2 linked regions of the Homo sapiens genome follow. The protein of the gene in region 2 interacts with the protein of the main gene of each other region in a pairwise test. Each region holds a gene or a part of one and is shown on either strand. Other genes may lie near its edges.

The links. Proteins that work in one complex are often made in the same cells at the same time.
Region 1: the proteins of ZNF670 (region 2) and TSGA10 interact in binary tests that used the Homo sapiens proteins (3 or more experiments, as listed by UniProt).

What each region holds. Positions count from the first base shown.
Region 1 is NC_000002.12:99,106,443-99,109,942, forward strand, and holds part of TSGA10 (testis-specific gene 10 protein), read right to left. Parts: intron 3,115-3,500; coding exon of another isoform or gene 2,998-3,114; coding exon 2,947-2,997; intron 2,550-2,946; coding exon 2,391-2,549; intron 1-2,390. UniProt on the Homo sapiens protein: Plays a role in spermatogenesis. When overexpressed, prevents nuclear localization of HIF1A.
Region 2 is NC_000001.11:247,068,812-247,072,311, forward strand, and holds part of ZNF670 (zinc finger protein 670), read right to left. Parts: intron 1-3,500. UniProt on the Homo sapiens protein: May be involved in transcriptional regulation.

The sequences.
Region 1 (3,500 bases), on a different chromosome or scaffold from region 2:
CACTTTCTCCCCTGCCTTCAGTCATGTACAGTGCTCCCTTATCTTGAAAACCTGTCACTTGATCCTGCTGACCAATTTACCATCCTATGTCTCTTCTTCCTGCGACACATTAAAAAAAAAAAGTCCCATGGTCTATAACTATTGCCAATGGTTCCTTACCATCCATTCTATCACCCCAGAACAACCTGGCTCCCACCCTCCCACCTTCTGTGGAATTTCAACTAAAGACCTAACCAAATATAATGGTCTTTTCTCAGTTCCTGTTCTCCTTGATATTTCAGTGGTCTGTTGCTGCTCACAACATCCTTCTTCTTGAGATTCCTTCCTCCCTTTTAACATTGTTCCTCCCTAGCTGTCTGTCATCTTTGTCTCTTTCAAAGGTTCCCTTCTGCATCTTGAATATTATAACTTAACGTTTCTGCTCCTCTATGTACAGTTTTCTCATTCAGAGACTTCATCCACTCTGAAGGCTCGAAGCTCACCTCTAAGCAGATGACTTCCAAAGCTAACTATTTAACTCTTGCCTCTCTCTACTCCAGTCCCACATTTCTTACAGTCTGATGGCAATTACGACCTGAGTGTGCTATCATTATCTTACTCTGTCTAAAAACAAACTCACATCTTTTTCCTCAAACCACCAATGACTCTCCTATTTTTTATTTTATTACCACATTGCTGAGTCATTCAAGACAGAATTTTAGTCACTGTCATGCAACCCTCCTTCTTCCTAAAAGCAAATCATGTCAAATCTTCCTTCACAGGGTCTTTTGCATCTGTCCCTATATTTATCTCCATTGAAACACCCTTGCTTAGTCCCTTAATGCCTTATATGTGCACTAGTGTAACAGCCTTCTAAAGAGGAGTCCATGGTCTCTCCCTCCATCAATTCTCTCAAAGGAGAAATTGTTAAATAAGAAGACAGTATAGAAAGATTATGTGAGAAATAAAAATTTGCCATAAGGTTAAAATTGTAAAATTGTAAAAATGATACTTTGTTCATATTTTGCCTGCCTTTAAAAAAAAAAGATTGTTTGTTGCTTATGAAGCAAAATATAAACCCCATATAAGGCCCATTGAACAGCCTGTACCATTTAGTCCAGAAGTCAGCAAGCTATATATAACTCACAGGCCACATCTAGCCTGCCTCCTGTAGGTCTGTAAGTGGAGAAATATTTTTGCATTTTTAAATGGTTGGGGAAAATATCAAAAGAGTATTTTAAAACAAGTAAAAATGATGTGAAATTCAAATTTCAGTATCCATAAAGTTTTACTGTAATACAGCCAAAGTTATTCATTTATGTATTGTCCAAAGCTGCTTTCACCCTACAACAATAGGGCTGATTAGTTACAACAGAGACCACATGGCTTGCAAAGCAGAAGATATTTTTTGTCTGGGCCTTACAGAAAAAGTATATTGATTCCTGCTCTAGTGCAATCTTACCTTTCAAGTCTTAGCTCTCTCCCTTCTCCACTGACACATACCCTCTATTCTAGTCTTAAACCAATTTATTTATCTGCTGATTTTCCTACCTTTATCCTTTGCCTCATACCATTCCTTTAGTTTGGATTGTTCCTTCTAGCCCCTTTCAGGGTAATAGAAACTCCATTCATTTTTCAGGGCTCACACTTTGTATCTTTTAATAAAGATTTCCTTGATCACCATATCTAAAAATGCCCACTTCTTTTGTTTCTTATAATATCTTCTAGACCACTTAATAAAAATCAATAAATACAATATACTTTATCTCCCTAACTAGACTGTAAATTTATAGGAAAACATGGTCAGCATCTTATCATTTTTCTATCCCTTAGAGTAGTGAGCCTAGAACCCTGTGTATAGTAGCTATAATTTGTTAAAAAATTGTGATACTTTTAAAAGAAGTTATATGGGTGATTTATAGGATTTAATACTTGTTGGGTTAAAGAAGGTATTTGATTAATAAAAGCTATGCAATTCTAAGCTAGAAAGCAGAGATAAACTACATACTTCTTTTATTCTCTAAAATTAAGCAAATTATATAAAAGTTCCTAAAGTGATGTGATAAGGTGTGGCAAGTTCAAGGTAAAAAGGTCAGGATTTGATCTTTTTACCTTGAACTCATAACAACTTATCATTTAACGGTTTCTTCATATCTTATTCCAAAAATAAGACTATTTTTATACATGTGTATGATTTTTGGCTATGGGGATAACATACGTGTGTACTCACATACCTACTGTATTGGAAATGTACTACATTTCATTAAGAATATCTTAAAAACATATGTAATCCCCAAATGTTAGATTAACTTGATTTGCAGGTTTAAGCAGTCTCATAAAACTCAAAGAAGAATTACATAACTCTAGAACTCAATGTTATTACTTATATAATTTGTTTTTTGTAAGTTTACCTGTTCATAAAGAAGGAAGATCTTGTCTCTCTCAGATTTAAGAACCTTGACATTACCCTGAATTTCTGCCAAATGGCGCTCATATTTTTCCAGCATGCATTTAAGTTCTTCACGATCTCTTGTTGTTGTCTTCAAAAGTTCTACATCACAGTTTGCACCCTATAATTATATAAGGAATTTGAAATCTTCTTTGATATATAGTACTGATAGAAAGGTGCTACTGATGGTAGTGCCCAATTTCTATTTAAGAAAATAAGACTATATAATGAAAGGAAATTATAAAAAATAAGTTTAAAAACCACATCTTTTTAAAACAGCTTCATTCCAAATTATTCCACATTTGCCTGATTACCTCCCAAGTGCTAATTATGCTGAGGATAAAGAACCAATATCAGTAGTCTACTGTGCCATCAAAGAGACCTCTGTCTCTCAACCCCTTTGAAACAGCAATTCACAGCAAATCAAAACAAATTATTTTCAAATTAGGTAAAACAAAGAATAAAAGCCAGTGTCTGGGCAACAAACTCCAAAATATTTGTAAGTTTATAAAACCTACCCGGGCAGTTGGTGATGGGCGTCTTGGACTTTTAGACCTACTTCGCATCATCTTTCTCAAATGTTGAGCTTCACTCTTATAGTGATCTTTGTCTGCTTCCAAAGTCTTGACAAAGGAATCAAGTCTAGAAGGAGATTTATTTTGTGCTTTTTCAGTATCTAAAATTATCTTGCCAAAGAGGAAAAAATTAGACCATTATTTCAAGCTAAACTATAGCATCATTTTCTAAGTGAAATTGAAAACAAACAGGATCCTTAAAAACATTTAATTTGGTATTTTTTAAATACAACATTTAAAAAATTATATATCAGTAATTTTTAAAAAGCAGTTAGATATCTTTCTTTTCCAGGATTTCTGGGTATGCTATATTTTAACTGAAAGATAATTTTGGAGAAAAAATGGTAAAGAAATTTTAGAGAGGCCAGAAATGTCCACAGACCTAGCACACATCCTAGAAATGGCATGGATTTGCTTTAGAAAAACATATGCTACTAGGCTGGGCATGGTGGCTCATGCCTGTAATCCCAGCACATTGGGAGGCCGAGGCGGGCAGA
Region 2 (3,500 bases):
CTGGGGTACTATTTTGCCAAAAAAAAAAAAAAAAAAAAGAATGAGATCCAGTCGTTTGCAGCAACAACACGGATGGAACTGGAGATCATGATGTTAAGCAAAATAAGCCAGGCACAGAAAAACAAATATCGCATGTTCTCACTTATCTGTGGGATATAAAAATCAAAACAACTGAACTCATGGGCATAGAGAGTCGAAGGATGGTTACCAGAGGTGGGGAAAAGTAGTGGCGAGCTGGAGGAGAGGTGGAGACAGTTAATGGCTGACAAAAAAAAAATACTTAGAAAGAATAAAAAAGACATACTATTTGATAGCACAAGGTGTCTACAGTCAATGATAACTTAATTGTACATTTTAACGTAACTTAAAGAGTGTAATTTGATTGTAACTCAAAGGATAAATGCCTGATACCCCATTCTCCATGAGGTGCTTATTTCACATTGCATACCTGTATCAAAACATCTCATGTAATCCATAGATATATACACCTTGTATGTCCCCAAGAAAGTTAAAGAAGACAAAAAAAGGTAACAAATGCTGGCAAGGATATGGAAAAAAAGAGAATCCTTGTACACAGCTGGTGGGAATGTCAACTAGTACAACTACTATGGAGAACAGTTTGAAGGTCTTTCAAAAAAAAACTAAAAAGAAACCTGCCATATGATCCAGCAATCCTCCTGCTAGGTATATAGCCAAAAGAAAGGAAACCAGTATGTCAAAGAGATATCCACACTCTCGTTTGTTGTAGCACTGTTTACGATAGCCAAAATTTGGAAACAACCTAAGTGTCCATCAACAGATGAATGCATAAAGAAAATGTACATACACACAGTGGAGAACTATTCAGCCATAAGAAAGCATGAGAGCCTGTCATCTGCAATAACATGGGTGGAACTAGAAGTCATTAAGCTAAGTGAAATAAGCCAGGCACAGAAAGACAAACAGCACAAGTTCTTACTTATTTGTGGGATCTAAAAATCAAAACAACTGAACTCATGGACATGAGTCAAAGGATGGTTACCAGAGGTTGGGAAGTGTAGTCAGGGGGACTAGGGAAGAGGTGGGGATGGTTAATGCGTATTTAAAAAACAGAAAGAATAAGTAAGACCTAGCATGTGACAGCACAACAGGATGATTATAGTCAGCAATAATTTAATTGTACACTTTAAAGCAACTAAGTATAATTGGATTATTTGTAATACAAAGGGTAAATGCTTGAGGGGATGGACACCCCATTCTCCATGATGTAATTATTACAAATTGCATCCCTGTATCAAAATATCTCCTGTACCCCATAAATATACATACTTAGTATGTACCCACAAAAATTAAAAATAAAAAAATTAAGAAAAAAAACATCGATTAAAGACTTAAATGTGGCCAGGCATGGTAGCTCACACCTGTAATCCCAGCACTTTGGGAGGCCGAGGTGGGCAGATCACGAGGTCAGGAGATCAAGACCATCCTGGCTAACATGGTGAAACCCCGTCTCTACTAAAAATACAAAAAACTAGCCAGGCGTGGTGGCAGGCGCCTGTAGTCCCAGCTACTTGGGAGGCTGAGGCAGGAGAATGGCATGAACCCGGGAGGCAGAGCTCGCAGTGAGCCGAGATCACGCCACTGCACTCCAGCCTGGGCGACAGAGTGAGACTCCGTCTCAAAACAAACAAACAAACAAACAAAAAGACTTAAATGTAAAACCTGTAAGTATAAAAACCCTAGAGGAAAACCTAGGACATACCATTATGGACATAATCCTTGGTAAATATTTCATGACAAAGTCTCCAAAAGCAATCGCAACAAAAACAAAAATAAATAAGTGGGACCTAATCAAACTAAAGAGCCTCTACACAACAAGATAAACTGTCAACAGAGTAAACAGACAACCTACAGAATACAAGAAAATATTTGCTATCTGTGTATCTGACAACGGTTTAATATCCAGGATCTATAAGAAACTTGAACTAATCAACAAGGAAAAATGGCAAACAACTCCATAAAAAAATGGGCAAGAATATGAACAGACACTTCTCCAAAGAAGACATACACATGGTCAAGAAGTGTGTGAAAAATTATGCTCAACATCTCTAATCATTAGAGAAATGCAAATCAAAACCATCCAGTCAGAATAACTATTACAAAAAAGTCAGAAAATAACAGATGTTTGCGAGGTTGCAGAGAAAAGGGAATGCTTACACGCTGCTGGAGGGGATGTAAATTAGTTCAGCCACTGTGGAAAGCATTTTGGAGATTTCTCAAAGACCTTAAAACAGAACTACCATTCAACCCAGCAATCCTATTACTGGGTATATATATCCAAGGGAATCTGAATCATTCTACCAAAAAGACACATGCATGTGTATATTCACTGCAGCACTATTCACAATAGCAAAGTCATAGAATTAACCTATATGCCCAGCAACAGTAAAATGGATAAAGAATATGTGGTACACATACATCCAGGGACAATTACACAGCCATAGAAAAAAGCAAAATCACGCCCTTTGCAGCAACATGGATGTAGTTGGAGGCCATTATCCTAATCAAATTAACACAGTGGCAGAAAACCAAATACTGCATGTTCTCACTTATAAGTGGGAGCTAAACGATGAGTACACACAGACACAAAGAGTTAAATAAACACTGGTCATACTTGAAGATGAATGGTGAAAATAGGGTGAGGGTCTAAAAACTACCTATTGGTTACTATGTTCACCACCTGGGTGATAAAATCATTTGCACACCCAGTCCCACCAGTGATATTTGACCCATGTAACAATCCTGCACATGCAGCCTCTAAACCTAAAATAAAAGTTGAATAAGAAAAAAAGAAACTGGTGAATGATGAAGGTCTGAATATGAAGGTAATAAATTACATGCCTTAAAGTAATATGAAACCTTTTATACCGTACATTATTTATACTGTTATTTTTTAAATTTGAGTTATCTATTTTGAATTTTCATTAAAACGTAAGAACTCATTTATAAATTGGGTAAAATACCTATTGCTAAATATTTGTATTTCCTTTCACAGTTTTATTCTTTCTTTCTTTTTTTTTTTTTTTAGATGGAGTCTCACTCTGTTGCCCAGGCTGGAGTGCAGTGGTGCAATCTCGGCTCACTGCAAGCTCCGCCTCCCAGGTTCATGCCATTCTCCTGCCTCAGCCTCCCAAGTAGCTGGGACTACAGGTGCCCGCCACCACGCCTGGCTAATTTTTTGTATTTTTAGTAGAGACGGGGTTTCACCGTGTTAGCCAGGATGATCTTGATCTCCTGACCTCGTGATCTGCCCGCCTTGGCTTCCCAAAGTGCTGGGATTACAGGTGTCAGCCACTGCGCCCAGCCACTTTTTTTTTTTAAACAGCGTCTCACTATGTTGCCCAGGCTAAAGTGCAATGGTGCAATTACAGCTCACTGCAGCCTGGAACTCTGAGGCTCAAGTGATCCTCCCACCTGAGCCTCCCAAGCAGCCGAGACCACAGCTCCGCACTGCCATGCCT